2 separate regions of the Homo sapiens genome follow, and region 1 is linked to region 2. The links come from fine-mapping of genetic effects on gene expression. A gene starts in region 2. The other region holds a variant in brackets. All regions are shown on one strand. Distances are between the middles of the regions. Region 1 holds the start of FXYD5 (FXYD domain containing ion transport regulator 5). Region 2 holds the start of ZNF30 (zinc finger protein 30).

The links.
Region 1: its variant is fine-mapped to the expression of ZNF30 in visceral fat (GTEx, PIP 0.98).

The regions. Positions count from the first base shown.
Region 1 is chr19:35,149,165-35,164,847 of GRCh38, reverse strand. FXYD7 (FXYD domain containing ion transport regulator 7) reads right to left here. Exons shown (of 6, transcript NM_022006.2): 3 at 13,520-13,594; 4 at 13,366-13,408; 5 at 13,175-13,215; 6 at 10,546-10,954. The coding sequence ends at 10,932. It overlaps FXYD5 (FXYD domain containing ion transport regulator 5), which reads right to left and starts at 10,113. Exons shown (of 9, transcript NM_014164.6): 1 at 10,039-10,113; 2 at 9,237-9,297; 3 at 7,347-7,427; 4 at 6,448-6,504; 5 at 4,047-4,139; 6 at 603-692. The coding sequence starts at 9,297. RefSeq lists enhancers at 9,173-9,342, 10,281-11,145, 12,095-12,646 and a silencer at 13,345-13,744. The variant C/T (reference allele first, on the strand shown) is at 6,416.
Region 2 is chr19:34,917,720-34,933,402 of GRCh38, reverse strand. It overlaps ZNF30 (zinc finger protein 30), which reads right to left and starts at 6,500. Exons shown (of 5, transcript NM_194325.3): 1 at 6,187-6,500; 2 at 3,447-3,519; 3 at 1,410-1,560. The coding sequence starts at 3,455. It overlaps ZNF30-AS1 (ZNF30 antisense RNA 1), which reads left to right and starts at 6,577. Exons shown (of 3, transcript NR_110749.1): 1 at 6,577-6,674; 2 at 9,569-9,861; 3 at 10,352-10,388.

The sequences.
Region 1 (15,683 bases), 230 kb before region 2:
TCTTACCACTAGAATAGTAGTTCCATGAGGGCAGAGATTTTTTCTGGCTTGTTCACCACTCTATCTCTGTCCCCTAGAACTAGCCTAGCACACAAGTACTCAGTGACTATTTGTTGAATGAATGGATGAATGGGCTCTCTATGTGACCCATGGGCGTATCATTTCCATTCATTCACTGGGGGGCTGACTGGGCAGGAAGTGGTGGATAAGATCACCAGGGAAAGAATCAAATTGCCCCTAGAAACAGAGGTCCTTGCTGACCCACAACTGACCTCAGACGCATGAGTAAGTCCAGCTGAAACCAGAAGAACCAGCCAGCTGAGCACACCCTAGATTTCCAAATTGCAGAAATGAGAGCTAAATAAATGGTTATCCTTTTAAGCCACTGAGTTTTTAGGTGGTTTGTATGCAGCAATAATTTATGCATTCACTTATCTATTCAGACATTTATCATGTGCCCACCCTCTGCCTGGCTTGAAGTCATTTACTTTCCCATCACGTCTTTACTGAGAACTATTCTGTGCTGGGCTGTACTCCAGGTGCTGGAAATACACAGTGAACAGAAAATAGCCTGTTTCCAGTCTGGGGAGGCAGTTACTAACCAGATGGCTTGAGGGTCTGGGGGTCTGTCTGGACGTCTGTGCTTGGGGATGGTCTCTCAGAGAGCGTCGTGGTGTCATCAGTGGGATGAGCTGAGAGAGTGGCCAGATCAGTGGAGGGCAGGAGTGAGCCATGGAGGCAGAAACAAGGGATATTACTGAGAGTCTGCATCTGGAAGAAACCCCTCTCCCACATCTACACAGCTGGTGTGCAGGGTCAGGCATCCCCCCTACTCCACACCTAGAGGCAATAAGTAATGACAGGCATTGAAATGCTGAAATAAGCACATAGCCCCGGTTGCGACTATCTGATCTGCCTCAATCCCCGAGGGACTCCAGACCCCTCTCCTAGGACCTTCTGGCCCACACTATAATCCAGGAGATAAAGGAACGAAAGGGCAACACCTGCCAAGGACTCTGACCCAGCTACATAGTCTGGAGAAACTTGTAAAACATTCTGAATATTGGCTGGGTGCAGTGGCTCATGTCTGTAAACCCCAGCACTTTGGGAGACTGAGGCGGGCAGATCACCTGAAGCCAAGAGCTCAAGACCAGTCTGGCCAACATGGTGAAACCCCGCCTCTACTAAAAATACAAAAATTAACTGGGCCTGGTGGCACACACCTGTAATCCCAGATACTTGGGAGGCTGAGGCAGGAGAATTGCCTGAACTCGGGAGGTGGAGATTGCAGTGAGCCAAGATTTCGCCACTGCACTCCAGTCTGGGCAACAGAGCAACACTCTGTCTCAAAAACAACAACAACAACAAAACTATTCTGAATATCACCTCTGCCCCCAGACCGAAAATACCAAAGGATTCTTCTCTTGAAAAAAAAAAAAAAATCAGTACCTCCAAAGAAAAGGCCTCCCCCAAGCACTGAGAAGTGCCCCCACACCACATCGGAGGCCTCAACAAGAAGCCAGCAGACAGAGAAGCTCCCTCGTGAAACCCAAGTTCCCTGGAATTATCTCAGTGCCCCACACCCTAAATAGGAACTGGCAACCAAGGATTACAAGATATTCAGGGAATGCATTGCCCAGAGGAAGGTATAAGCCAGATCCACGGCAGAGACCACAGGAATGCGAAGGACAGCCATACTGGTGTGTGGTGCTCATGCACCCTGGGGTGAGACAGTCTGGACTCAAATTCCGGTTCTGCCACTCTTGGCTGTATTGCCTAGGGCAAGCTGAGTAACCTCTCTGGGCCTCAGTTCCTTTTCCTGTAAAATGGGAGTAATGACAGTTCCCACCACACAGGATGATCACAAGCATCAAATGACTGAATACACAGAAGCTTAGCACAGTGCCCAGCATGAACAAGCTCTCAGCAAAAGTCAGCCATTGCTATTACTGTCTGCTCAGCACTCTTCCTCCTTCTGGAACAGCTCTCCCTTTCTTTGTGGGAAGACATTGCCCTCCCTTCCCCAGTTATAACCCAGGCTACAAAAGGAAGCTTGTGACCTCAGTCTGGTCCTTCCCTGAGACCTTTGAAATCCCAAGTAGGGATATTGAGTGACAGCTAGGTACTATAGACTGAATTCTATCCACCCCACCAAATTCCATGTGATGGTATTTTGGAGCGAGGGCCTTTGGGAGGTAATTAGGGTTAGATAGGATCATGAGGGTGGGGCCCTCATGATGGGATTAGTGCCCTTATAAGAAGACACCAGAGAGCTTGCTTTCAAGCTCACAAGCCCACCCACACATGGAGAGGACATGGTGAAGACAGAGCAAGAGAATGGCTGTCTGTGACCCAAGGGGAGCCCTCGACAGACACCAACCCTTCTGGCACCTTGATCTTGGACTTCCCATCTCCAGAACCGGGAGAAATGAATTCCTATTGTTTAAGCCATCCAGTCTGTGGTATTTTGTTATCGTAACCTGAGCAGATTAAAACCCTAGGTGAAGTCTGGAAGTTTTGAGCTAGGAGGCTCAAATAACATGAGCCATTTCCTTCCTAGGTGGAAGAGAAGCAAAGATAGAGGAGGAAGAGAGGCCCTGGGGGCTTTCATGCCCAGCCTCTAGGCAACCCAGAGGCTCAGCAGTGACAGCCATTTGTCCTTGATGAATTTCTGTCACATATATCCAGGAACATGGACCAATACATAGAGCAACTCAGGTCAGCAAAGACTCAGTAAATTAATGCAGTGATGTGAGAATGCTTTATCATTGATAAGTGTGGACACAGCTGCTATCCCCCACCCCTACAGGTGCACTTTTGTACAAACTAGAAAAGTTCCCTTCTGTAAAGCACTTTATTTCCATCCATTGTAGGATTGTTTTAATAGATAGATTCTGTAAGAATGAGATGCTTTGCTGCTATCACTAGAAAACTGGAACAATTATAAAGACCGACAAAGGGAATGGCATTGCCCGAGAGGTGGTGCTCTCGTTCAGTACCCAGTCTGCACAACTGTACATGTCTCTCTGGGAGTGGCCTACTCTACAACACTTTCCAGTGTGGGGCTGCCCCTCAAATAAGGATCATCACGCAGGCATTAGAGGCGATCTGTTGCCTTATCTCAGCTCAGTCTCCTTTCCCACACCTTCTGGTAATACTAACTCACTTGTCCAAAGGAAAATCCCCTCTTCCCTGACTCTTGGTCTATGTGGTTCAGGCATGGCTGGCTGAGCCTCTTCTCTAGCCCCAGGGTGGGGCACAAGACTCAGGCCTGACCAATGAGAGCAGCTCATTTCTCAGGCTCTCATTGGTTCAGACATGAGCATGTGACTCCAGCTGAACCAATGAGAGTCAATTCTAGGCCTCAGGCTAGAAATAATGGGAAAGATTTTGTTCTCTAGCCACCACGTATGTGACCTAAAGTTAGAACTATGGGACCATCTCTGCCATCAAGAGGGGAGAAGTTAGTAGAGAATGAAGACAACAGAACCAAGAGAGGGAACAAAGCACTCATGACAGTGCTTACTCGCCTTGATCCAGCTATGCCTGAAGTTGGCTACTTCTGGACTTTCCAGAACTTATATAGCCAATCATTCTTTTGTGTGTGTGTGTGTGTGTGTGTGTGTTTAAGGTGAATTTTCTATATTTTGCAACTGAAAAGCTCCTGCTCTAACATTAAGGAGATGTACAAAAAAGAAATATCCACAGGCACATTCTATAGCCCCAGCCCTCCGAGGGGAACTGACAGAAAGAAAGTTCCAAAGTCTATCAGTTAGGGAAACACTGCATACTGCACGCTGCCCCTTGGGGATCCTTTGCTGAAAATTAGCTTAATGAAGACTCTCAGAAGTCCTGCCACAAAGAAACATGGTTAACTTTAACTCAGGGTTCCCCAAATAACTTTGACCACAAACCAAAAACATTTTTTTTAAATGTATTAACAATTCCCCAAACAGGGGCACTGAGAAACGTACTGAGGGAAATGTTGACCTAGATAGAGAATTAAACAAAAATCGTAGGCTGCTGCTCTCAGTCCCATGCTATACCTGCTTTGGTGCTCTTGTGTGTCTCTGGATCTGTCACTAGAGGCCCATCCGTTCCTTCCAGTTGCTGGGTCTGGGTCTGGGGTTGTGGTGTTTCTATTCAGGTCAGGAGAGCAAGGAGGGAAGGATAAGAAAGAGTCACTGGGGAAAGAGAATTGGGGCCGGGCGCGGTGGCTTATGTCTGTATTCCCAGCACTTTGGGAGGCCGAGGCGGGCAGATTACCTTAGGTCGGGAGTTCGAGACCAGCCTGACCAACATGGAGAAACCCTGTCTCTACTAAAAATACAAAATTAGCTGGGCGTGGTCGCTCATGCCTCTAATCTCAGCTACTCGGGAGGCTGAGGGAGAATTGCTTGAACCTGGGAGGCAGAGGTTGTGGTGAGCCGAGATTGCACCATTGCACAGCGACCTGGGCAACAAGAGCAAAACTCCATCTCAGAAAAAACCTAAGAGGCTGGCAAAACCTGAAAATGTCAGTATACCAAGTGTCACTGTAGGGTTGGGAAGGGGGACACTCCTGCACACTGCTGGTGGGTTAGGAAATGGGTACAGTCACTTGGGAGGGGAACTTTTATTTTTACTTTTATTTATTTTTGAGACAGGGTCTCACTCTATCACCTGAGCTGGAGTGCAGTGGTGCAATCATAGCTCACTGTAGCCTTGAACTCTTGGGCTCAAGTGATTCTCCCGCCTTAGCCTCCCAGGTAGCTGGGACTACAGGCACATGCCACCATGCCCAGCTAATCATTTTGTACTTTTTGTAGAGAATAGGTTTTGCTGTGTTGTCCAGGCTGGTCTCAAATTCCTGGGCTCAAGCGATCCACCCGCCTCAGCCTCCAAAAGTGCTGGGATGACAGGCATGAGCCACTGTGCCTGGGCGGCAGGAGGGCAAATTTTAAAACATTAAGCATGCATGTCCTTTGCCCTGTATTGTCTTGGATAAAAGCACAGGCTCTGGTGCCAGATTCCTGGACTTCGATTCCAGCTGCGTCCCTGACTTGTTGTGAGACCTTGAACCAGTTACTCACAGCCTCTGTTTCCTTGTCTGTAAAATGGGGACAATGGTAATTTCTGCCTCTTAGGGTTTGCGTGAAGGTTGAATGAGTTAACATACGCAAAATATTTAGAACCATGACCAGCACATAGTCAGTACATATTCCAAGTGCGTTTGCTCAAGGAGGAAGGGACAAAGTTGCTCATTGTGGTGCTGTGTGTAGACAGAAAAAGCTGGAAACAGCCAACATGTTCATCAAGAAGTGTGTGACTCCATAAGCTGTGATATAGGCGCCTTGTGGAATACCAGGCAGGAGAGAAAACAAAACAAGTCTTTATGCAGTGATGTGAGAAGAACTTCCAAACATACGACTGCACGAAGAAACAAAGCAAGCTGCAGAACAATCATAAGGTCTCCTTAAGCTCACACAAACACAGCACACAGTCAGTGCATTTTCTCCAAGTAATATACATGGGATGTGGTATCACTGGGGACCTACCCCAATGCTGACAGTGGGGACCTCTCAGAGACAGAGGGAGAGAACGAGGATTGGGGAGGGGAGGTGACAAAGGGGTTTAGTTTTGCCTACAATCATTTTATTCTTTCCAGGCAGAATGTGTTTTTGTACTACTGTGTCTTTAAACATCGATTGAAAAAATCAGGGAGCACTTTTTTTTTTTTTTGAGACAGGGTTTCGCTCTGTTGCCCAGGCTGGAGTGCAGTGGCAAGATCTTGGCTCACTGCAACCTCTGCCTCTGGGCTTAAGTGATTCTCCTGCCTCAGCCTTTCGAGTAGCTGGGACTACAGGAGCACGCCAACGCACTCGGCTAATTTTTGTATTTTTCTGTAGAGATGGAGTCTCACTGTGTTGCCCAGGCTGGTCTAGAACTCCTGAGCTCAAGTGATCCATCCACCTTGGCCTCTCAAAGTGCTGGGATTATAGGCATGAGCCACTGTGCCTGGCCGGGAGCACTTTTTGAATTATACTTCAAGAAAACGTCCAAAAATTGTTCAAAAAATTCAAAAAAGGGATCAGAGAAAAAAGAGATGAAAGGAAGAAATAAATGGGACTGGCACACAGAGACTTTCTGGGGGTGTTTGCAAAGTTCTGCTCCTTGACCCGGTTGGTAGTTACATAGGGATTCAATTTAGAGTAAGTTATTACACTGTAAATTTATGGGTTTTGTATTTTTCTATATGCATGTTAATTTCACAATTTCAAAAGCGTTTTGGTTTTCTTTTTCTAAAGAATTGAATGGAGTTGGCTGTCCCCACCCAGAGTAAACCAGGGCATTCAGAGCTGGGAGTAGGGACTGAAATGGGCAACCAAAGACCTATAGTGTCAGAGGAAGAGGGGAAACTTTGTTTGTCTTGGTC[C/T]TGTCCCCGCCGCCTGCCCCTGCACTACTCACCATCAGCAGGCCAGGTTGGGGTTGGAGAGGTGGGCTGGAGTTCTGTGTAGACTGCATCTGGAGTCCAGAAACAAGGAGTCACGGAGAGAAAAGGAGAGAGAAAAAGAAGTGGGCAAGGTCTATGGGTGGAGATGCCAGAGATTCCCGTAGCAACTCAACTTTAATGTAATAGAAATGGCTTAATTAATCCAGCCATTTGCTAACTGCCGAAATGTGTAACCAATATGTCCCCTTCTTTGGGACCTTACGTCCCACAGATGCCACACTACAGCTCCTTCTTCGAGATGCTGGCTGCAAATTGTCTTTCTCAAGACTCTGAGAAGTGCTGCCTAAAAAAACATGTTTAACTCAGCTTCCCAAATGCACCTGCTCTGATAAAAGCCCCCAGAACTTCCTTTAGGGACCATCCTTCCCTGACTCTTGGTCCACTTTATTCAGCGGGGCTGACACCAGCCCTGGTGGAGGTTGGACATGGAACCCAGGCCTGGCCAATCAGCTTTCTATGCCTGTGGCCACAGTGGCCAGCTCAGGGATACGACCTGAGCCTGGCCAAAGATAACTCAGTTCTGGGACATTTGCTGGACTGGGGAAAGGAAATTCTCTTGCTGGGATTCTTAGCAGACAGGATGACAGCCCCAGGCTTCAAGGGATCATCTTGGCCCCATGAGAGGAGACTCTTCCTGAAAATGAAGCCAACACAGAGAAAACAGAACCAAGAGGTGGAGAGAGGTTCTGATAGCATCATTTGAGCACCTAGATCAAGCCATGCCTGAAGGTCTGTACCTGGACTTTTTCGTTACATAAATCCATAAATTCCCTTGTTTGGTCCAAGTTTGGGATTTTTGTTGCTGTTGTTATTTGCAATGACAGGATCTTGATAGATGTGTCCCTTTCCTCACCTGGGGCTCGTGTCGGGACCTGAATGTCCATGATAGTTGAGTCTGCTGAAGAACTGGACGTGGTATCTTTCAACGTCTGTCCTGGGGAATCAAGGATGAGAAGTCAGGAGGGAGCCTGGTCCCCCTCCTCTCACCACCCCCGCCCTCGCCTCCCTGGTGAAACCTTAGGGGTCCTGTCTGCTGGTGGAATCACTCAGCTTTGGCTGCATCAATCCATAATTCTGAAAGTGTTTTCAGCTATGCCAATGCCTGGGAACCCTTCTTCTAGTCCCCCTCCCCGCCCATCCCTGTGGGATGGGAAAGTCAGTTTAGTCTAGTGAGCCCAGGTGCTAGGGTGAGCCTGGGCCCTGGTTTCAAATCCTGCCCCCAACAACTTTCTTGCTGTGTGACCTGGAACAAGTGAAGTCCTTTCTCTGAGCCTCAGTTGCTTCATCTGCAAAGCAGGGATAATAACTGAATCTACTTCACAGGGCTGTAGATAGGGTGAAATGACACAGAGCAGGGAAAGGGTCTCCCACACGGCTTACCATGTGGTCAGTGCTGGATAACTCCACTGCCCCCATCCTGGTCCTGCCTCTGTACCCTCCAGCCTGGACATCCCAGCAGCCTCCTTCTTGGGCTCCCTGCTCCTGTCTCCGCCCCCACAGTCTGTTCCAACCTGCAGCCAGAGGGAGCCTGGGACCACCTGAGTCAGGTCGGGGCCCGCCTGGTTCAGAGCCCTGCCCTGGCTGCACTTCACTCCACATAAAAGCAAAGCCCTCACGTGGCCCGTAAGTCCTCCTCCATCTGGTCCCATCACTTCTCTGTCCTCTCGTCATCCCACTCTGCCCCTTCTCATCCCAACCCAGCCACCCCACCTGCCTGCTATTCTTAAAACACACCAGACAACACTCAGCCCCCAGACACCTGCAAAGCTCATTCCCTCATTTCCTCCAAGTGTTTGTTGGTCCAAATGTCACCTCCTCAGTGAGGCCCTCCCTGACCACCCAGTTTAAACAATCCTCATTACCTCTACTTTTCTGCAAGCACGTATCACCTCCTAGCACACGATATAATTTACTAACTTGTCTCTCTCCACTAGAGTGTGACCTCTTGTTTTATTCAGTGCTGTTTCCCCAGTGCACAGAATATCTAGCACATAGTAGGTGCTCAATAAATATTTGTCAAATGACTGAACGAGTATATGAAAATCATTTTATGAAGGAGAAATGAGGGCGCCTTCAGTGGGGCATGCACCCTGGGTTCTGGGGGCAGGCAGGACAGTTGTTTTCTCAGCTCCTCCACCCATTCTCCTCTGACACAGGGCACTTCCCTTCGCTGAGCCTCAGTTTCCTCATCAGTAAAATGGGCAAGACAACAGGTGTGACTGACTGTCAGAGGCAAAGCCTAACTGACCTAACACACACCACACCTGCCACACAGAAAGAACGATCAATACCCCCCTGTGGTTCCCATCTTTCAGGAGACACTTTCCAGGCAAGGCTGAGATGTTGCCAACTCTTTGGACTAACCCCAGCTCAACAGCTTTGCCTAACTGTGTAATGCCTGGGGACTCTGGGAGCCTAGGTTTCCTGGCTGCTGAGTAGAAAACCGACACCAATCTCCCCGCCAAATGAAACTCAGTGAGTTCTTCTTGGAGGTGAAATTGGAGGATGCTCAGCAGGACAGGCCCTGGCCAGACTCACTGGAAGCAGCCACCCGGGTCTGAGGTGTCCAAAGAGGGTGTAACGTCGCCCCGCCATAGGGATCCCCACTTCCTGGTGCCGGCTCAGCGGGAGGGTGACAGGGCAGGACAACGTTCACACGGGCCAACCACCCACCCCGCAGCACACGTGGGGCTGGCCTGGCTGGGGGCTCTGGGGCAGGGTGGAGGCCAGAGATGGGTCTTACCTCTGGTGGGGAGAATCAGGCCAACGATGGTGAGAAGACACAGGCGACCAGAGGGCGACATCTGTGGGACCAGGCGATGCTGGGGTCAGCCATGATGTCAGTGAGACCGACCTCCGGCAGCCCCCGGGGATCCTGCAGCCCTTTCCCTGCCCTGAGCAAAAACCTCTGGCTTCCAAGACCCCCTGCCAGGGGCTGACGGCTGGCCTCAGGGGAAAGGGGAGGGTCTTAGGTGGGGATACCAAACCGTCACCCTGCTTCCTTCCCCTGCAGGTCCCCAAAGAAAACAAGAAGCATGAGATAAATGGGTCTTCCAGCAGCTGCAAGGGCCGGCGGGCACTCCTGAAGCAGAGAAACACCTCCCTGCGCCTTCCGCCAGGCGCTTATCCCTCACTGGGACTGACGCAAGGAGGGGACTGGGGCAGAGGAGTAGATAGGAGGCCTCTTCCCTCCCCCAGGGGCCCAGAGCCCGGGAGTCGGCGAGGAGGGGAAGGAGGAAGAGTGAGTAACGCCTCCCGCGCTCAGAGGAAAAAGTGAGTTGGTGTCAGGGGCCGCCTTGCAGGGATGGCGCGCTGGAGAGACCTAAGAGGCACTGGTCCGAGGGGGGTGGCAGAGAGCTGGGGAGACTGAGGCAGGCGGGCGGGAGCGAGGCAGAGCGGCCCACTGTAGCCCAGGAGAGGAGGCAGAGAGATGTGGGCGTGGATGGGGGGCGGAGAGGAGCGGAAGGGGTCAAACCCCTACCCACCTGAGCCCGGCCCGTGGGCAGAGGGGCAGCGGATGGAGGTGGCGCACGAGAGGGACTTACGTCGGAGCTGGGGGTCCTAAGCCGGCAGCCTCGTGGAGAGAGGGACGCGGCGGTGGCTGCTGCGTCCAGGCGGAGGGTGTGGCCAGGGGAGCGCGAGCGGGCGGGGACCCAGACGGGCTCAGTCATTTCCTCTTGGGTTTCCTGGCTTCAGAGCCCGGGGTGGGAGCAGGAGGGGGAATCGCTGAGGGCGACGGGGGGCAGGGGTGAGGGCATAGTGGTGGGAGAGGGTGGGAACGGGGATGGGGCAGGCAGGTCTAGGGTGAGTGGACGCCTCTGAGAGAGCAGGGGGAGAAACGGGAGGGCTCTATTCTGGGGTCGCTGGAGGAAGGGAAAGGACAAATCCGGAGGTGTTGAGGAAGGAGAAGGGATTGAAGGGGGGCATCTCGGGGCACTGGGGGAGGAGAATGAAGAGGGGGCGACTCCGGGCACGCAGGGGAGAGCTACCCCAGGTTCAGTTCTGCACCCCTACCCACACCGTGCCCCACAGATGAGAACACACAGACAGAACAGAGGAAAAAACCAAATGCACATTTATTAAGCTCAAGACATGGACACTGAGGGGCCAGGGGGACGGATCTTCGGGGATGAGACAAGGAGGTGCAGGGGGGCCATACACGGGGATGCTGGGGGTGCTGGGCCGGGATGGACTCCCGGATCCCAGGAGCTGGAGGCCTGAGGCCCTGGGTCTGGGGTGCAGACGGGCTCTTTGGGGGATCGTCATTGCCAAGGCCTGGAGAGGGACAGCAGGGTGCAGCGGCTCCAGCCTTGGGGTGGGTGGGGCGGCTCATTCCGGGGAGCGCTCCCGGCGCGCGGCTGGGTCCCCACCGCCTCCACCCGGTCCTCAGGCTCCCGCGCTCAGGCAGGGTCGGCAGCGGAGTTTCCTCGGGAAGGTGTTACACGCCGCCGCCACCAGGGGCTGGGGAGAGAGGGGGTGCGTGAGCCACTAGAAAGGTGGAAACTGCCTCCCTCCCCACAGCTCGTTGGCTCTCCATTCCCCGGCACCATGGAAGCCAGACCCCAGGGACTGTCACCCCAGAGCTAACACTGAGGAGCTGTCTTGCCTCCCACACTCTAATGTCTTGTTCCCTTGGGGACACCTCCTGGCTGCTGTCATGGAGAGAAACACCTGCTACGGGGCTGGCGACCCCAGACCCAACCTGGGCTTTTGGGGCTATCCGCCTGCCAGAAAGGGAGTCCCCATCTCCCTTCCCATTTGCAATCTCCTCCTACACCCTCACTCCTTTCCTACACTCCCTGTCCTGAACATTTGGATACAACGGGAAGTCCCCCATTCCCCACCCGCTGCAGACCATCATTCACCTAGGATAGACCAGAAACCTGTGCAAAGTCTTCAGCTGTGCCCCAGGTGACAAGGCCAACCCCCATGCTGCCCCACGCATCCATAAGTGCCTTGTTCATGTTTTAAAACTCATTAAATAAACATGAAACAGGCCAAGCGCTGTGGCTCACGCCTGTAATCCAAGCACTTTGGGAGGCCGAGGATGGCGGATCGTTTGAGGTCAGGAGTTTGAGACCAGCCTGGCCAAAATGGTGAACCACCATCTCTGCTAAAGATATAAAAATTAGCCGGGTGTGGTGGTGTGTGCCTGTAGTCCCAGCTATTTGGGAGGCTGAGGCAGGAGAATCGCTTGAACCCAGGACGCAGAGGTTGCAGTGTTGTAATAAGCTGAGATCGTGCCACTGCACTCCAGCCTGGGCAACAGAGGACACAGCAAGACTCTGTCTCAAAAAAAAAAAAAAAAAAAAAAAAAAAAAGGAACGTGAAACAAATTCCACACCAAATACTTCTCAACCATTGAATAACCCGTGTCCCCCTCCCGCATTTTTTTTTTTTTTTTTTTTTTTTTTAGTTATAAGAACTTTATAAGAGACACAGAAATTCCCATTTCTGTTCTTTTACAAGTCTCCAGAAAGGCTGCATTTCCACTAAAAACAGGTCAAGTTATTTTTACATAATTAAAATTAACAGCCTCAAAGAGATCAGTCTTTCGTTGACATGCTTGCCCTGCATCCCTCTCGCTCTCCCTTTACACTTTCCATGCTTACACCCATTCTCCCTCCTCCACCCTCCACGCCCTCCTCCTCCCATCCTCCTCCCCTTCCTTCCTGGGCTCCTCCTTCCCACATTCTCCCCAACACCTCCGTCCTCTCCACTCTCTCCCCTCCTGTTCTTCCCAGCTTTCTTCTCCATCCTCACATTCCCTGCATCCCATATGTTCTTTTCCAATGTGAATTCTAAAATCTGCATTCTATTCATCTCTCTTTTTGTTATTTTGATGCAACTATTCAGAAACCTTCCCTCCCTCCCTCTGTCCCGCTTCCTCGGCTATTTCATCCTGGATCTGCCTGGCTGAACGATCAAGTCTGGAAAGCCTCTCCCCGTCTTCCTCAGTGCTCCCTCTCTCTCCCTCCTGATTGACAGAGCTCCTCCCACATGGGGCCCTTCTCTTCACAGGCCTGTGTCTTCCTCTCCTGGCAAATCAGCTTGTCCTGGCTTTTATAGGCTTGAGCATTTGTTTCTGGGAATCTCTGTGGACTCTGGGACATGTCACATCCCACAGCCTCCCCACGGTTTAGCATCATCTTTCTTTTCCCTCCCTCCCTCCCTTCCTTCCTTCATTTCTTCCTTCCTCTTTTTTTTTTTTTTTTTTTTTGACAGTCTCACTCTATCACCCAGGCTGGAGTGGAGTGGCACAACCTCAGCTCATTGCAACCTCCACCTCCCAGGTTCAGGTGATTCTCTTGCCTCAGCCTCCTGAGTAGCTGGGATTACAGGTGCGCACCACCATGCCCGGCTAATTTTTGCATTTTTAGCAGAGACGGTGTTTCACCATGTTGGCCGGGCTGATCTCGATCTCCTGACCTCAGGTGATCTGCCTGCCTCAGCCTCCCAAAGTGTTGGAATTACAGGCATGAGCCACCGCGCCCAGCCAGGTTTAGCATCTTTCATCTGCGGAATTTCCTCAGCTTCCTAGGGAATTGTCCTGTGATATCTGCAGGCACCACCCCCCCTCCGCCCCCTGCGTCCAGTCCATCCCCGCGACTTCCCTTCTGAGGGTTCCCTTCCCTGCCCCACCTAAAACTCTCCCAGAACCACACAGTTTCTCACCCTCACCTGAAGAGGGAAGCTCAGACTTACAGGATTTGCAGGTTGGGCTGTGGAGGCAGAGATGAGAGAGAAAAGTAGAAAGAGGTTCAATAACCATAGGCTTTGGGGAAAACGCATGGCAGGCCCAGTGGATCCTGCCCATCTGCTAGGGAGGCACCCCGAGGCCCCCTCCCGCTCTTTGCCCACTGCTGCCAGACCTCTCAGACCTGGAGTCCGCCTTCCTGCACTTCACCTTCTTGCCTGTTGGGAGAGAGAGACAGAACAAGAAGACAGGACATAGCGGGTAGGATATGGATGAAAGCCAGCAGAGGAAGCGGAGGCTGAGGCAGCCCAGGAATGGGTCGCACTTACTGATGACGATGAGGATACCCAGCAGGAACAAGATGGTTGCCAGAGTCATGCCCACAGTCTGCACCGTGTTGTAGTCTGGGGAAGATAATGGGGGACATCGAGGCAGGGACAGCACCTTGGCTGCACCTGGAGCCCAGTCCTGGCTCTGGGTGGCCCAGCCAGGAACCCAGAATCGCCCAGGGAGGCTGTGGACTGTGCTGGACACTCCTTCAGGGGGTTGATGTGAGGATGTAGGGTGTGGGCTTGGGCACCGTTAGCTCCCCTTGCCCTCTGTACCCTCTACTTTCCTCCCTTGCCCTCTCCCCCTGCGCTTTCCACCCTGGATATATATATAATACTCTCCCTCTACCACCTCCTCCCTGGCCCTGGTTCTGTCCACCATTGTCGCCCATCTGGCCTCTGCAGCAGCCTTCTCTAGGGTCTTGCTGGCCTGCCTGCACTCCCACCTCTGATAGCCACAAGGACCCATCAACATTTGAGTCAGATCTGGTTTCTCCTCTGCTCAGAGCCCTCCTCCCGCCCATTGCCCTCAAGGTAGAAACCACATTCCTCACTAGGGCCCTCAAAGTCCCATATGATCCAGTTCCTTTCCTTCTTGGACCTCACCCCACCTCACTCTCCCCATCAATCCTACTCCAGCCACAGTGGCCTCCCCACTGTTCCTGGGGCATATCCAGCATGATCCTATCCCAAGGCCTTTGCACTGGCTGTTCCTGCAGCCTGAAAGCTCTTCCCCCAAATATCCACGTGGCTCCTTCCCTCACCAGTGTCTGGGCTTTATTTGATTGTGAGCAAAACCTCTGGCTGTCCTATTCAGAATTTCCATCCTCTCCTCCACACTTTCCAATCTCATTCCCTTCTTTATTTTACTTCATAGGAATTATTCTTGCCTAATATTCTTGCCTCATAATATTCTTGTCTTTTTTTTTAAGAGATGTAGTGTCACTCTGTCACCCAGGCTGGGGTGCAGTGGTGCAATCATGGCTCACTGCAGCCTCTACCTCTTGGGCTCCAAGAGATTGTCCCTGCTCAGCCTCCCAAGTAGCTGAGACTACAGGCACACACCACCATGCCCAGCTAATTTTTAAATTTTTTATGTAGAGCTGGGCACAGTGGCTCATGCCTGTAATGAGCCTGTAATCTCAGCACTTTGGGAGGCCAAGGCAGGCAGATCACTTGAGGTCAGGAGTCCAAGACCAGCCTGGCCAACATGGTGAAATCCTGTCTCTTCTAAAAATATGAAAATTAGCCAGGTGCAGTGGTGTGGGCCTGTAGTCCCAGCTACTCGGGAGGCTGAGGCAGGAGAAGCACTTGAACCTGGGAGGCGGGAGTTGCAGTGAGCCGAGATTGTGCTACTGCACTCCAGCCTGAGCCACAGAGTCAGACTTTGTCTAAAAAAAGAAAAAAAAATCACGATCATAGTTCATTGCAGCTTCAAACTCCTGGACTTGAGCGATCCTCCTGCCTCAGCCTCCCAAAGCACTAGCATTACAGTTATGAGCCACCATACCTGGCCAATAATATTCTTGTCTAATATATAATTTTCATATTTTGTTTTCTTGAGTATCTGTCCCTTTCCCATTGAGTGGAAGGTCCAGGAGGAGGGCAGGAATTCTTGCATTCTTGAATTCTTGTCTGTGTGGTTCATTGCAGTGTCTCCAGCTGCTTGGAACATTGCCAGAAATAGAGCCTGTGCCCGCTAAGTATTTGTTGAGATATGAATTTATGGAGCACTCACTCTGTACCAGTAGTGGTCCAGGCCTCTACCAGCAAGGAGTTGACTTTCGTATTGTGATAAAACATTAAAGAAACAATCCCCCTCAAAAACAAGTCATGCGACACCAGCTGAGTATGGTGTGGCTCTTCCTTGCCAGGGAGTCAGGAGGGCCTATCCCAGTAGAGTAGTCTATGTTTGATCTGAGGCCTGAATAAGGGGGAGCCTTAGCCGGTCGTGTACAAAGGAGAAGCATTACTGCAGAATCATAGCACACGCAAAGGTCCTGAGATGGGAGAGAAATTGACACCTAGGGAAAAAGTATGAATGAGCAAAGGGGTGGGGTGGGGGCAAGAGGAGGGTGTTCAGAGGGGAAACTGGAGCCCGATCTACCAGGCCTGGGGTAGCTTATTTGAGCTTCAGTGCCATGGAGGAGATTTAATGCCACCA
Region 2 (15,683 bases):
CAGCTCACTGCAACCTCCGCTTCCCGGGTTCAAGCAATTCTCCCACCTCAGCCTCCCGAGTAGCTGGGACTATAGGCATGTGCCACCACGCCCAGCTAATTTTTGTATTTTTAGTAGAGACGGATGTCACCATGTTGGCCAGGATGGTCTCGATATCTTGACCTCGTGATCCGCCCACCTTGGCCTCCCAAAGTGCTGGGATTACAGGCATGAACCACCACACCCAGCCGAAAGGTTTTATTTTAAATGAAATCTATCTATCTATCTAACTATTATAAATATAGATAAGTGTATACTCATTTATTCTTTGTGTCTTGATAAAAAACCAGGCCCGGTGGCTCATGCTTGTAATCCCAGCACTTTTGGAGGCCAGGTGGGCAGATTACTTGAGGTCAGGAGTTCGAGACCAGCCTGGTCAACATGGTGAAACCCTGTTTCTATCAAAAATACAAAAATTAGCTGGGTGTGGTGGTGTACGCTTATAATCCCAGCTACTAGGGAGGCTGAGGCAGGAGAATCACTTGAACCTGGGAGGTGGAGGTTGCGCTGAGCTGAGATCATTACACTGCACTCCAGCCTGGGCAACAGAGTGAGACTATGTCTCAAAAAAAAAAAAAAAAAGAAAGTATGACATTGTGATTGAGAACGCGGATTGTGGAACCTAAGTGCCTGGGTTCAAGTTTCTGCTACCGTCACCTATGGGCTGTGTGATCTTGCGTAACTCACTTAAACACACTGTGCTTTATTTAGCATTCTCACCTAAAATGGTTAGCACCTATAGAGTGCTTGTAAGGTTAAAAATCAGTTAATACAAATGTATATTAATATAAAGAGCAGAGAACAGTGAAACAGCACACAGTAAGCACGCTGTGTGTTAATAACATTATTATTGTTATTTTGCTAAGACAAAAACAAAGTCTGCTTAGACATCTATATCTATAGGATATAGATTTAATTTGCATTTACTCTTAAATGCAAAGTTCAGAGATGATGAATTTTAACCACAAAATCAGATTATTTTATATGAAATAAAATGAGGTAACTTCAGTTTTAAATGATTTGTTTATCCAATCCGCCGGCATATAAGTTGTATAGGTCTTCAGATAGAACAAATCAAGACCCTTTGTCTAGCTGTTCTGCCTGCAAGGTGGGTCAGATTTTCACAGAGCATTTAGAGCAATTTAGAGCAAAAACATAATAGAAAACCTGGCCTCTTTTGTCAATGTTTTGCAATAGACAATCCAGAATTCTAATCCTGCCACTGGATCATTTCCAACCTAACAAAGCTCAAATCATTTCTCTGGCAACAAGAAGAAATCGTGTTCAGTTCTTAAGCTAGCCCTAAAATCTGCAAAGGAGAAAGTATAACAGGGAGCAGATTCTCAATTATTTGAGAGAAGTACACTTACCCATTGACACCAAGTTCCTGTAGTTCTCCAACATCACATCTCTGTACAAGCCCCTCTGGGAAGAGTCCAGACTCTCCCACTCCTGCTGGGAGAAGGCTATGGCCACATCCTCAAATGTCACTGATCCGTGATACTGCAAACCCACATATTTCTGGTAAAATCAAAGAAAATGCTTTCAAGGTGAAAGGAGAGGGAATAAAACGTTTCAGTGTAGTAAGGGAGCAATAACATAACAATCACATAGGCTGGAAGCTTATGATGTGGCAAGTGGATGAGCATGGTATCTGCATGTTCTGGAAGAATCCTGCTGCTATGGACAAAATGTCCTATATATTGTAGGATTATCATAATACTCCAGATTTGTGGTGAAATGGATAAAAGAATCCTAGTTTCCCTGTTAAGTAAAAGAGTACATACAAAGATATGGCCTGCTAGGTATCCAATGAAACAAATTCTCAAAAACAATTAGTCTCTATATTACTTTCCCTTTAAGAAGAAAATAGCTATGATTCCTTTCTCCAACTGTAGAATAAAATCTGTCTTAGAAAATAGCCATGACACAAATTTGTTGAATAACTCCTCAAGCTTCAAGTTCATTATGTCAGATCATAAGTGTTTTTCCTTATATTAATAAATACTTTTTTCCAAAGTGACATAAAAGTTATCTTGTGGATCTGTATTAAAGGTTAGTAACTTTGCGAGGCTGAGGTGGGTGGATCACACGAGGTCAGGAGTTCGAGACCAGCCTGGCCTATGCGGTGAAACTCATCTCTACTAAAAATACAAAAATTAGCTGGGCGTTGTGGCATGTGCCTGTAATCCCAGCTACTTGGGAAGCTGAGGCAGCAGAATCACTTGAATCCAGGAGGTGGAGGTTGCAGTGAGTCAAAATTGTGCCACTGTACTCTAGCCTGGGTGACAGAGCGAGACTCAGTCTCAAAAAAAAAAAAAAAAGAAAAAAAGAAAAAAAAAAGTAATGATTTTATACTTATAAACGAAGACTGTAACAAATGCCTCAGTTTTCCCCAGTTCTGGTAATCTGTTCATCTACTACTGATAACAATATGCTGATAGTGTCATACAAGATCCTTCACTTAATACTTTGGCTGCTGTTTTTTTAAATTTTTTTTTGAGACACAGTCTCACTGTGTTGCCCAGTCTGTAGTGCAGTGCTATGACCATAGCTCACTGCAATCTTGAACTCCTGGGCTCCAAGTGTCCTTCTGTCTGAGGGTCCCAAGTAGTTAGGACTACAGGCATGTGCCCCCATGCCTGGCTAATTAAAAAAAATTTTTTTTGGTAGAGACAGGGTCTTGCCATGCTGCCCAGGCTGGTCTTGAACTCCTGGGCTCAAGTGATCCTCCCACCTGGGGCTCCCAAGGTCCTGGGTTTACAGGTGTGAGCCACTGCACCTGGCCATTTGGCTGTTCTTGAGTTAGTGGATTAGGGTGAAAATGACTCAGAACCAAATGCATGTTGTCCAAGTCTGGCAGGTCCCATTCCATAACAAAATTGACCTTAGTATCACTCTCAGGCATCCCAAGAAGAACCATGATATCAATGTTTCACATCATAATCACATCCCCACTCAATCTTAAAAGCCTCATAGAGCATGTTATCTCATCATATTGAGACCAATCAATACAAAATTCCATCTTATCAGCTCTGTGGAAAACTTCAAATCTTCTGATGTGTGGCCAGATGAAGCCAACAGATCAAACTCATCAAACCACAGATGGATGTAGGAAGCTCAAATACTTCTGCCACGGGACTTCAATCCTCCACTGCTCTATCACAGCCTTTCAGCTAAGACTTACTATTTACCTGCTTCGTAACTTGCTCAATGAATTCATGAACACCGATTAGAAATGAGGACCTCGTAAGGAGGAAACGATACTTTGACATCATTCCGCCAAACAGAAGGAATCAAGTAGGCAATTAGATGGTACATTCTGATGAAGAATGCTTCAGGTCAATTAAGGAAAATAGCCACGTAATATAAAAATCCCCATATTTCAAGAAGAAACACCAACTTACATGGGCCATGCTTTGAGAATTGTAAGAACTGATCAGTCTTCACTGGGGTTCCTCTATCTGAGAAGTTCAAAAGCTAGAAAATCCAGAGAGGAGAAAAGGAGGCTTTAGTGTTCTCAATGACATACATTAATAAACCTTCCTGTCCCTTCATTTCAGCTTCCAAACTGTGCTACAAACACCCTCAAACAAAATTTGGAGAACAGTGGAATTCAAGCCCCAGTTAACTAAGCTGTACAGAGTTGATCGCAGAGGTGTGGCACTTCTTAAGGAAGGCAGAATCAGACACAAGCTTTCCCACCAGGCCCCCATTTTGGGAATGTTGATCTAGGTCTCAAATTGGGTTGCACAGTCTTCTCTTGAACAGATTCTCCTCACTCCATTCCCACGTTCTAAGCCTAAGAAAGAGTCCATATCACCCAATCCAGAGCTTCTTTAATGGTGACAGTATAAATCTGAGGTTGGTCAAGACACGGGAGGTAGAGAACATAGGAGAAAATGATCAGGCAGTTACTAATATGGCTCAGTTTTCTCATCACTAAAATAGTAATAGGAGTATCAGCTCCAACATGTGGTTGTCCTGAAGAATAAGAAAACCCACCCCAAAAGTTAATAGAATACTTGCTTAACATGAGTTGGCTCTTTTGTTTTGTTTTGTTTTGTTTTATTTTTTGAGACGGAGTCTCGCCCTGTCACCCAGGCTGGAGTGAGTGCAGTGGCGCCATCTTGGCTCACGGCAACCTACGCCACCCAGATTCAAGTGATTCTCCTGCCTCTGCCTCCCTCCCGAGTAGCTAGGACTACAGGCGCATAGTCACGCCCAGCTAAGTTTTGTATTTTTAGTAGAGACGGAATTTCACCATGTTGGCCAGGATGGTCTCCATCTCCTGACTTCGTGATCCGCCCGCCTCAGCCTCCCAAAGTGCTGGGATTACAGGCGTGAGCCACCGCGCGCAGCCGAGTTAGCTCTTACTATGGTAGCTCCCTCTTATCCACAGGGGGGAGATACACTCTAAGATCCTCAGTAGATGTCTGACGGAACCCCATATATACTATGTTTTTTCTTATACATACACACCTATGATTAAGTTTAATTTATAAATTAGGCACCATAAGAGATTTTTATTTTTCTGTTTGTTTGTTTGTTTGAGACAGGGTCTCACTCTGTTGCCCAGGCTGGAGTGCAGTGGTGTGATCTTGGCTCACTGCAACCTCCACCTCCTGGGAGCCTCCCAAGTAGCTGGGATTACAGGTGCCCACCACCACGCCTGGCTAATTTTTGTATTTTTACTAGAGACAGGGTTTCACCATGTTGGCCAGGCTGGTCTCGAACTCCTGACCTCAATTGATCCACCCATCTCAGTATCCCAAAGTGCTGGGATTACAGGCGTGAGCCACCGCACCCGGCCACCATAATTGAGTAATAGCAATAACTAATAATAAAATAGAACAACTATAATAGCATACTGTAATAAAAGTTATGTGAACATGGCCCCTCTCTCTCAAAATATCTTATTGTACCAAAATCACCTATTTTCAGATCATGGTTGACTGAGGGTAACAAAGTGAAGAAAGTGAAACTGCCGATTAAGGGGGCACTACTGCATTGGAGTTATTACGTAAACATTATACATCCTTTATTTCATTTTAATTAAACACTTGTTTCCACTTAATTTAATTTATGTATCTATCTATCTATCTATCTATATATATATATATATATATATATATATATATATTTTTTTTTTTTTAGAGAAGGGATCTCGCTCTGTCGCCCAGGCTGGATTGCGGTGGTGCCATCTCCACTCACTGCAACCTCCGCCGCCTCCCAGCTTCAAGCACTTCTCCCACCTCCGCCTCTCAAGTAGCTGTGACTACAAGCGCACGCCACCATGCCTGGCTAATTTTTATATTTTTAGTAGAGACGGGGTTTCACCATGTTGCCATGTTGGTGGTCTCGAACTCCTGAGCTCAGGCAATCCACCCGCCTCAGCTTCCCAAAGTGCTGGGATTACAGGCATGAGCCATGGCACCCGACCTGTTTCCACTTTTTACTTAAAACGTAAGTTTCTCTGGCATGCTTTCTTTTAATTCTAACTAAAAAATTAAGAGCAACTCTTCTTTAAAAACAAACAAATAAAAAACCAACAGAAAAGATTCTCTGACATTTCAATTTCCTCTGTCCCCTAGCAGCTAGAGAGAGAGAGCTACTGCTGTGGGATAATGCAAAATTGAAGAACCTTAAGAAAAAGCTGGGTCCTATTTCTGTGCAATATGGAGATTGATGGAAATGTTTACAGCTGTCATCTTGCTCTCCTTTCTTACATAATTTTGTCATTAGTTAAGTAATCTGCACAACAGATCCTTTGAAGTCCTTTTCCCTGCACTGATAATTTTCAGATGACATTGCTCTCATCTTTAAAAGGTGTAAATACTTTATACAGTTTTTTCCAAACAAGAAGAGGCTTCCTGGCAATCCCATTTCTTCCCGCTGCATGCAAAAGGTATCATAACTATCGTTTCCTTTTTAAACTGAGAGTTGAAGAGTCTTTTGCTCCTTTACATAAATCAATTACAGTGATTTTATCCAAAATAGTAACAAATATTAATAGCTCAGGTTCGCATGGAGGCCATGCACCCAGTCTTCGCGGATGCACACCGGCCCCGGCCGACGCACCCTCCCTGCCCTGCCGCTCCCGCACTCGCCGGCCCGGGATCCTCGCCCGGTCCACCCAACGCTCACGCATGTCTCAGTCCGGGTTCCGCGCCGACACAGGTCTGCAGAGCTCCCGGTGCTGTGTTCGTTTGCAGAAATTCAAGTTGCCCGGCGGGGCTGCTCCAACCTCGGAGCTGGGCGCTGACTTCTCCCTCGATGAACTCCAAAGCTCGCTGCCGGGTCAACGACCACAATGAACTGGCGAGGAGGCAGAGATTGAGGTCGTTCCAGTGGCCGCTGAGAAATGTAGTTTCAGGCTACATTGGCCGGATAGCTGCAGCCTCTGGGAAATGCAGTCCTGAGCCGTCACACCGCCGAGCATGCCCGGCGCAGTCCACAAGGCCGCCCACCGGCGCCCGGAGACTTCTGGGCGCTCCCGTCCGGCTGAGAATGCGCAGGCGCAGGCGCTCGAGTTGCTGGGAGCCATAGACCTCGAAGCTGGGGCGTCTGACACCTGAGGCCCGAAGTAGGTGGCCAGCTTCTTAGAGGGCCAACCCAGGGCATTAACACACCAGGTCAGAAAAAGCAAAAACAAAAACAAACAAAAAATGATAATCTATACCAAAATATGTTATTACTTTAACACAAAAATATGAAAACTAGGTGTTTGAAATTATCTTTCCGTACTGTTTGCTTTTCGCTACAGAAATGCTATTATTTAACAGAATATTAATAGGATTAATAGTGGCAATTAGACTAATCACGTGTGAGAAAAATATATTTCTGTCCTCTGATACAGGAATTTTAAGTTTCTATTAAATATTTAAATTTTGTGGGTTCTATCTAAGATGCTAAATGTAAGACCTTTTAAAAGGAGAATGTAAATAAGGCTAATCAAACAGATATTAACTATATGTAATAGGCATTTATCTTTCTGTCCCATCATACGTTTAGGAGATATTTACTCTTTCTGGTTCCTTTTCCAGTAACACCTCTCTGTATTAGCTGCCTGTAGCCTTTATGGCATTCTTCTTTTGGTTTATGTAATGCTAAAACTGAATACAGGCAAACGTGAAATTCACCTTGACTGTCAGCTCCGCTTTTTGTTTGTTTTGTTTTTGTTTTGTTTTGAGACAGGGTCTCCCTCTGTCGCTCAGACTGGAATGCAGTGGCGCTATCTCGGCTTACTGTAACCTCTGCCTCCCAGGTTCAAGTGATTCTCCCACCTCGGCCTCCAGAGTAGCTGAGACTACAGGGGCGCGCCACTACACCTGGCTAATTTTTGTATATTTTTTGTAGAAATGGGGTTTTGCCATCTTGCCCAGGCTAGTCTCGAACTCCTGGGCTCAAGCGATCCACCCGCCTCAGCCTCCCAAAGTGCTGGGATGACAGGGTGAGCCACCGCGGCCAGCCGAGCTCTGTTCTTATTAAGCCCACATTACAGTGATTCCTGGAGTCAGTCCAGGGTGATGACATTGATAAGGAGGTGGGGAAGGGGAGTGCTGGGGAGGGAAGGGCGGGGTCCCTTTAAATGATATGGAAGGGGGAAAGGGAGGTGCTGGGTACAGGAGGGTGTGGTCCCTGGCTAGGGCTCCACCCCTGGCCCTGTGCCAACTGACCTAGGTGAGGGCAGGCATTTTTGTTTTCCTGCCCAAATGTTGCGTTTCCCAAGACCACCCTGGCCTGCCACGCCCCCATCCTGTTCCCGCCCCCATCCTGTCCCTATAAATACTCTGAGACCCTAGCAAGCAGACACACAAGCCGCTGGACATCCAGAGGAACATGTTGGCGGAAGAAGACATGACAGACGCTGGCACGCGGGCAGGCCACCCACCAGAAGGACGCGGAGTTTGGCTGGGGCAGTCCAAGGAGAGCCGGTGCTGCGGAGCAGCCCGATTCCAGGGGAAAACCATTTCCCTTCTGGCTCCCCCAACTGTTGAGAGCTACTTCCACTCAAAACCCTGCAGTCATCCTCCAAGCCCATGTGTGATCTGATTCTTCTGGTACACCAAGACAGGAACCCCGGGATATGAAAGCCCTCTGTCCTTGCGATAACGCAGGGATCTAATTGAATTGACTAACATAAGCCGCCTGCGGACAGCTAAAGAGCATCCTGTAACACGCCCACTGGGGCTTCAGCTATAAACATTCACCCCTAGACACTGCCATGGGGTCAGAGCCCCACAGCCCGCCCGTCTGTATACTCCCCTGGAGGTTTGAGCAGCGGGACACTGAAGAAGCGAGCCACACCCCCATCGCACGCCCTGCCAGGGGGACAAGGGAACTTTTCTCTTATCAACATCAACCTAAGTAGCCTCGCATCAAAAGCATTTGACTGTCAATAGTTAGGATTTTCCCTACCAGCAGTAGCAAGTTTTTAGCCTTATTGGAATTAGTTTCCAGCTCTGCAAAAATGTTCATCTGCTTTGTAACTCCAGGCTTTTTTGGTAGAGCAGCTGTTTGTTGACCAGTCGCTTTGCCTCTGTAAGTTCACCATATAGGCTATTCATGTCTAAAGTGTTCATTTTCAAACCCTCTGAAACTCATTGGGTATCTATTACAATGTCTGAAGACAAATATTTCATTAACAAATAAGAAGGTGATAGACCTGGAGTGAGAATCCACCCAATTCATGTCAATCGGAGACAAATTTGCAATATCCTGTGATTCCTGAACTGGCTGTGGTCACTGATCACTTCTGTCCTGGAGGAACTAGAGACATTCAAGACAAATAAGGACTCATCTAGTCCCCTGATTAAAGGACTTTTCATAGAGGCTGCATTAAGGGCCAAATTATGTACAATGTGCTCTCTGAGATGGGGATGTGTAAATAGCCGTCAAAATGTCATCTGGGCAGAAATTTGTTTGGGAGGATAAATTTATGTTCAGGGGTGAGGGGTGAATACAATAGAAATTTGTATTTTGCAGAGGGAAATGTGGGTTCCATGGTGGGTAGAAATAAAATAGATTAGTAGAATACTTAGAATGTCAAAGAAATTTTTAAATCATAGGGTTTTTTTTTTGAGAAAATTTTTGAAATGATTTTGAAATGATTTATTCAAAAAGTGCCCCTCAAAAGTGATCACTCCATAGATGACAGCTAAGGATCGCAATCTTACTGCTATGCCCTTGTGTTTTGAGTGAAGACTTGTGTGACTATAGTGAGGGTCTAGGTGTTTAATCGTCAGAGGTAAATTGGAGATTTCAGATGAGGCTGTCTCATGGAAGAGGGAGGAAGGATACTCACAAACCCTACAGCTGGAATCTGAGCATCCAGTGGAAAATGACAGTCCCTGATCCCTCAGGAAACTTTCTCTGGCCACTGTCAGTGATGTTCTAATCTAGGAGAGCAGAACTTTCCCCCTTATAATGTTTCTCACTGCATTTCCTGAAATATATTTCGTCTAAGTTCCATACGTTTATCTGAAAAGAATAACCACTTACCAAATTGTGTTTCCAACTAGGATAGTGGCCGCAGTTGTATTATCTTGTGCATTTGTCAAGAGAGGTCATCCGAACGCTGAGATAAAGGCTTGGGATTCCATTGTCTCATCTCTTTCTGGGAGTGATTTTCCTCTCATCTGGAAGTGCAGAGACAGAGTCTTCATAGGGAACTGAGATTACCTCCAAAAAACATTTGTGAAGTGAGCAATTCCTAGAAGGCTGTTAATGTTGATTAATGAAATTATACAAAAAGAATCATAAGATAGCTGGAGAAGAAAATTATCTGTGATGCCTGGAAAAGATACGTCCCAGTGGGAGGTAAGTACAGAATCCTGAGTTCTGAGATGTGAGGAATTCAGTTGAGGTAATGGTTCTACTATAATTGTGGCTACCATTAAATTTTTGTTTCTTCAAATTATGATTTATTTCTCTTCCTGATAACATTGAACAATCATAAATGTGGAGGGAAAGGAATCATTGAGGGTTGATTTAGAGAGAGTAAACAGGTGTAAAGCCATGGTTCCTGTGTGTTTTAACAAATACTAACTGAGCACCCGCCCTGTTGCAGATGCATTTCTAGATGTGTGAACAAAGAAATTTATCTACCTTAATTTGAATTGAGAGAAGCAGACAATAAATAATAAAGGAAATGTTATAAGTTACATAGTGACTTATAAGGTGTTATAAGTTATGTAACCTATGTTACATATATGTAACTTATGCTATAAGTTATGTTATAAGTTATGTTATATACAATATAACATAACAAGTTATGTTATATATGTTATGTTATAACTTATGTTGACAGTCCTCAGAAGGTCTCCCTCTCCCTCTCCCGTCTCCCTCTCCCTCTCTTTCCACGGTCTCCCTCTGATGCCGAGCCGAAGCTGGACTGTACTGCTGCCATCTCGGCTCACTGCAACCTCCCTGCCTGATTCTCCTGCCTCAGCCTGCCGAGTGCCTGCGATTGCAGGTGCGTGCCGCCATGCCTGACTGGTTTTCGTATTTTTTTGGTGGAGACGGGGTTTCGCTGTGTTGGCTGGGCTGGTCTCCAGCTCCTAACCGCGAGTGATCCGCCAGCCTCGGCCTCCCGAGGTGCCGGGATTGCAGACGGAGTCTCGTTCACTCAGTGCTCAATGGTGCCCAGGCTGGAGTGCAGTGGCGTGATCTCGGCTCGCTACAACCTCCACCTCCCAGCCACCTGCCTTGGCCTCCCAAAGTGCCGAGATTGCAGCCTCTGCCCGGCCGCCACCCCGTCTGGGAAGTGAGGAGCGTCTCTGCCTGGCCGCCCATCGTCTGGGATGTGAGGAGCCCCTCTGCCCGGCCGCCCATCATCTGGGATGTGAGGAGCCCCTCTGCCCGGCTGCCCAGTCTGGAAAGTGAGGAGCGTCTCTGCCCGGCCGCCATCCCATCTAGGAAGTGAGGAGCGCCTCTTCCCGGCCGCCATCCCATCTAGGAAGTGAGGAGTGTCTCTGCCCGGCTGCCCATCGTCTGAGATGTGGGGAGCGCCTCTGCCCTGCCGCCCCGTCCGGGATGTGAGGAGCGTCTCTGCCCGGCCGCCCCGTCTGAGAAGTGAGGAGACCCTCTGCCTGGCAACCGCCCCGTCTGAAAAGTGAGGAGCCCCTCCGCCCGGCAGCCGCCCCGTCTGAGAAGTGAGGAGCCCCTCCGCCCGGCAGCCACCCCGTCTGGGAAGTGAGGAGCGTCTCCGCCTGGCAGCCACCCCGTCCGGGAGGGAGGTGGGGGGGGTCAGTCCCCCGCCCGGCCAGCCGCCCCGTCCGGGAGGGAGGTGGGGGGGTCAGCCCCCTGCCCGGCCAGCCGCCCCATCCGGGAGGTGAGGGGCGCCTCTGCCCGGCCGCCCCTACTGGGAAGTAAGGAGCTCCTCTGCCCGGCCACCACCCCGTCTGGGAGGTGTACCCAACAGCTCACTGAGAACGGGCCATGATGACAATGGCGGTTTTGTGGAATAGAGAGAGGGGAAAGGTGGGGAAAAGATTGAGAAATCGGATGGTTGCCGTGTCTGTGTAGAAAGACGTAGATATGGGAGACTTTTCATTTTGTTCTGTACTAAGAGAAATTCTTCTGCCTTGGGATCCTGTTGATCTGTGACCTTACCCCCAACCCTGTGCTCTCTGAAACATGTGCTGTGTCCACTCAGGGTTGAATGGATTAAGGGCAGTGCAAGATGTGCTTTGTTAAACAGATGCTTGAAGGCAGCATGCTTGTTAAGAGTCATCACCACTCCCTAATCTCAAGTACCCAGGGACACAAACACTGCGGAAGGCCGCAGGGTCCTCTGCCTAGGAAAACCAGAGACCTTTGTTCACTTGTTTGTCTGCTGACCTTCCCTCCACTATTGTCCTGTGACCCTGCCAAATCCCCCTCTATGAGAAACAAGCAAGAATGATCAATTAAAAAAAAAAAAAAAAAAAAACTTATGTTATAAGTTACGTAGTGACTTATAAGGTGAAAAGTGCAATAGGAAAGGAAACAGGAGGAGCAGAACCCAGTGATGAGAAGCCTGTGGAGTAGGAGGGACTCCAGTAGGGAATGGAGGGGGTAGGGTTGCTCTCATAGGGAAATGATACTTAAGCAAATATTTAAAGGAGGCGAGGGAATAAGTGATTTGTATCGGGGGAAATTCAGCCCGATATTTCACGTAGGTTCTTTTCTATTTTCCCTAAGTGTTGGCCGGTCTGAGAAATAAAGGGAAAGAGTACAAAAGGAGAAATTTTAAAGCTGGGTGTGGGTGTTTCTCATCGGGTGGGACAAGAGACTGAGAAAAGAAAGAGACACAGAGACAAAGTATAGAGAAAGAAAAGTGGGCCCAGGGGACCGGCGCTCAGCATAGGGAGGACCCGTGCCGGCACCAGTCTCTGAGTTCCCTCAGTATTTATTGATCATTATCTCTACCATCTTGGAGAGGGGAATGTGGCAGGACAATAAGGTAATAGTGGGGAAAGGGTGAGCAGGAAAACATGTGAACAAATGTCTCTGTGTCCTAAACAAGGTTAGAAAAGGTGCTGTGCTTTGATGTGCACATACATAAACATATCTGGTGCATTAAAGAGCAGTATTGCCGCCAGCATGTCTCACCTCCAGCCTTAAGGCGGTTTTCTCCTATCTCAGTAGATGGAACATACAATCGGGTTTTACACTGACACATTCCATTGCCCAGGGACGAGCAGGAGACAGGTGCCTTCCTCTTATCTTAACTGCAAAGAGGCCTTCCTCTTTTACTAATCCTCCTCAGCACAGACCCTTTACGGGTGTTGGGCTGGGGGATGGTCAGGTCTTTCCCTTCCCACGAGGCCATATCTCAGACTATCACATGGGGAGAAACTTTGGACAATACCTGGCTTTCCTAGGCAGAGGTCCCTGTGGCCTTTCGCAGTGTATTGTGTCCCTGGGTACTTGAGATTAGAGAGTGGTGATGACTTTTAACAAGCATACTGCCTTCAGGCACTTGTTTAACAAAGCACATCCTGCATAGCCCTAAATCCATTAAACCTTGAGTCAACATAGCACATGTCTCTGCAAGCACAGGGTTGGGGGTAGGGTTACAGATTAACAGCATCTCAAGGCAGAACGGTTTTTCTTAGTACAGAACAAAATGGAGTCTCTTATGTCTACTTCTTTCTACATAGACACAGTAACAGTCTGATCTCTCTTTCTTTTCCCCACAATTTGGAGACACAGGAAGATGTTCCATGAAGAAGTGGTCAGAACAATGCCCTTTTGGCAGGAGGATGCCCACATTCATTGACTAGTTAATGTGACAGCATAAAAGCTAGGGTTCCCTCCCAACTTGGGACCACATTGAAGGTCTTTTACAGATACAGAGCTTCCTGTGGGATTGGCTGAGGCCTTTGTTGTGAATGCATAACATGTCTACTCCCTCTGCCCAATCCTGTTTACTTCCTCCACCTTCCCCAGGTACTGAGGCCAAGAGCCATTCCAAATAATTGCCCTGTGTGATAACCTCCATCTCAATGTCTGCTTGCCTGCAAACCCAACCTGTGATAGAGTTAAATTAATTTGATGTTATCAAATATTCGGTTGAATTGTTAAAGCAAGCAATCTATATATGCTAGTAAAGAAAGTATCAGTATAGGAAGAGGCTATCAGAAATAGACATAGCAGAACATCTTTTGTACTGCAGATTCAGAGGAAGCTATGTTTTGAAGCATTGATCTAACAGCCTGGGTGACAGAGTGAGACCCTATCTCAAGAAAAAATAATTATAATAAAAGGGTCAGTTTAGACTAGGAGAATTCTGAGATCTCCTGAGCTTTTTCAGATGGTGGACTGAGGGCTGCAATTGGAGTCAGGTGGCCCATCTAACTGCATATTTCCATATGCAACTTCTATTTGGTGGAAATCAGAAGAGTTTAAAAAGCTAGTAGGGGAATACAAGGACACAGGGGGTTTATCCATGAAAACATTTTAGATCTGGAGAGCCACTTTCTAAAACCACTAGCCTGGCATTGGTGCCATTCAGTTTCCAAGTGGAAGTGGACAAGCATTTTAAAGGTATAGGGAAGGAGTTTTCTCCAGTTCATATGGTGACAGCAAATTATGTGTAAGCATGACAACTAGCAATCATATTTTGCCCCAAACCAACATATAACATGTTCTGTCAGTGCAGGTGTCCCCTGAAGAGAAGATACAACAATAGGATAAGACTTACAAGGGAATTGTTGGGGCAAAGCACCTTCAAAGGATAAAGGGAAGCTAGAAGTGTGGAGAGAGAGCTTTGAGAACCCTGGCTGGGTGCGGTAGCTCATGCCTGTAATCCCAGCATTTTGGGAGGCTGAGACTGGCAGATCACCTGAGGGCAGGAGTTCAAGACCAGCCTGGCCAACATGGTGAAACCCCATCCCTACTAAAAATACAAAATTAGCCAGGCATGGTGGCACATGCCTGTAATCCCAGCTACTTGGGAGGCTGAGGCAGGAGAATTGCTTGAACCTGGGAGGCAGAGGTTGCAGTGAGCCGAGATCATACCACTGCACTCCAGCCTGGATGACAAGAGTGAAACTCTGTCTCAAAAAAAAAAAAAAAAGAACTCAGTACCTGTGGGATTCCTGTTGTGTTATTTTATATATATATATATATATATATATATATATATATATATATATATATATATTCACCTGATCGGTTCTTCCTGCCCACTGCACAGAAAAAATCAATCCACTGAGACCATGGCTTTGCAGTAAAGAAAAAGTTTGATGAGAGGCTGGCCATGCCACGAGGGACATGGAGTTATTACTCATCAATCTCCCTGAAATTTGGAGGCTGGGGTTTTTCAAAGATACTTTGGTGGGCAGGGAACTAGGGAATGGGTGCTGCCGACTGGTTGGGGAATGCAATCATAGGGATGACGAAAATGGTCCTCATGCACTGAGTCTGCTTCTGGGTGGGGGCAACAGGACTGTTTGAGTCACAGGTTGGGTGGGGCCATCTGATTGTCAGAAATGCAAAAGCCTGAAAAGATATCTCAAAAGGCCTGTCTTAGATTCCACAATAGTGATGTTAATTACCATTAACATAGTAATTAACATAGGAGGAGCTGGGGAAGTTGGAGATCTTGGGACCTCTGGAATAATGGCTGGTAATTGTTTAACTGCACCTACATTTTAGTAGAATTCAGGCCCCTCTGATTTTCCTAACCTGGTAGCCTTTCATTAGTTTTACAAGGGTGGTTTCATTTTTGGGAAGAGCTATTGTCTCCCAAAGTTAGTCTGACTTATGCCCAGGAATGACCAAGGACAGTTTGGAGGTTAAAGGCAAGATGGAGTTGGTCAGAATTTTCTCTTACAATTTTTGCAAAGGCAGTTTTATATATATTGGTTTTCATCCATGGCTCCTGGCTCTTAACTCTCGTAGCTCTTGTTACAGTCTTTTGTTATAATGTTGGGTGTGTTGGGCCCCAAGGGCAGGCCTCAGGAAACAGAATCTGTCTCCTGCCCTCATTTCACCTGCCCCAGGGCATGACTGTAATCTTCCTGTGAAAAGTAAAGTAGAGGTTTCTCTTCAAAGACTTTCTTCCCTGTCTAATTAGGAATAAATAGTAACTTCTCTTAGAAGCAAAATTTATTCAAAGACCTGTGCTAACATTCTTAAATATCTGCTAACCA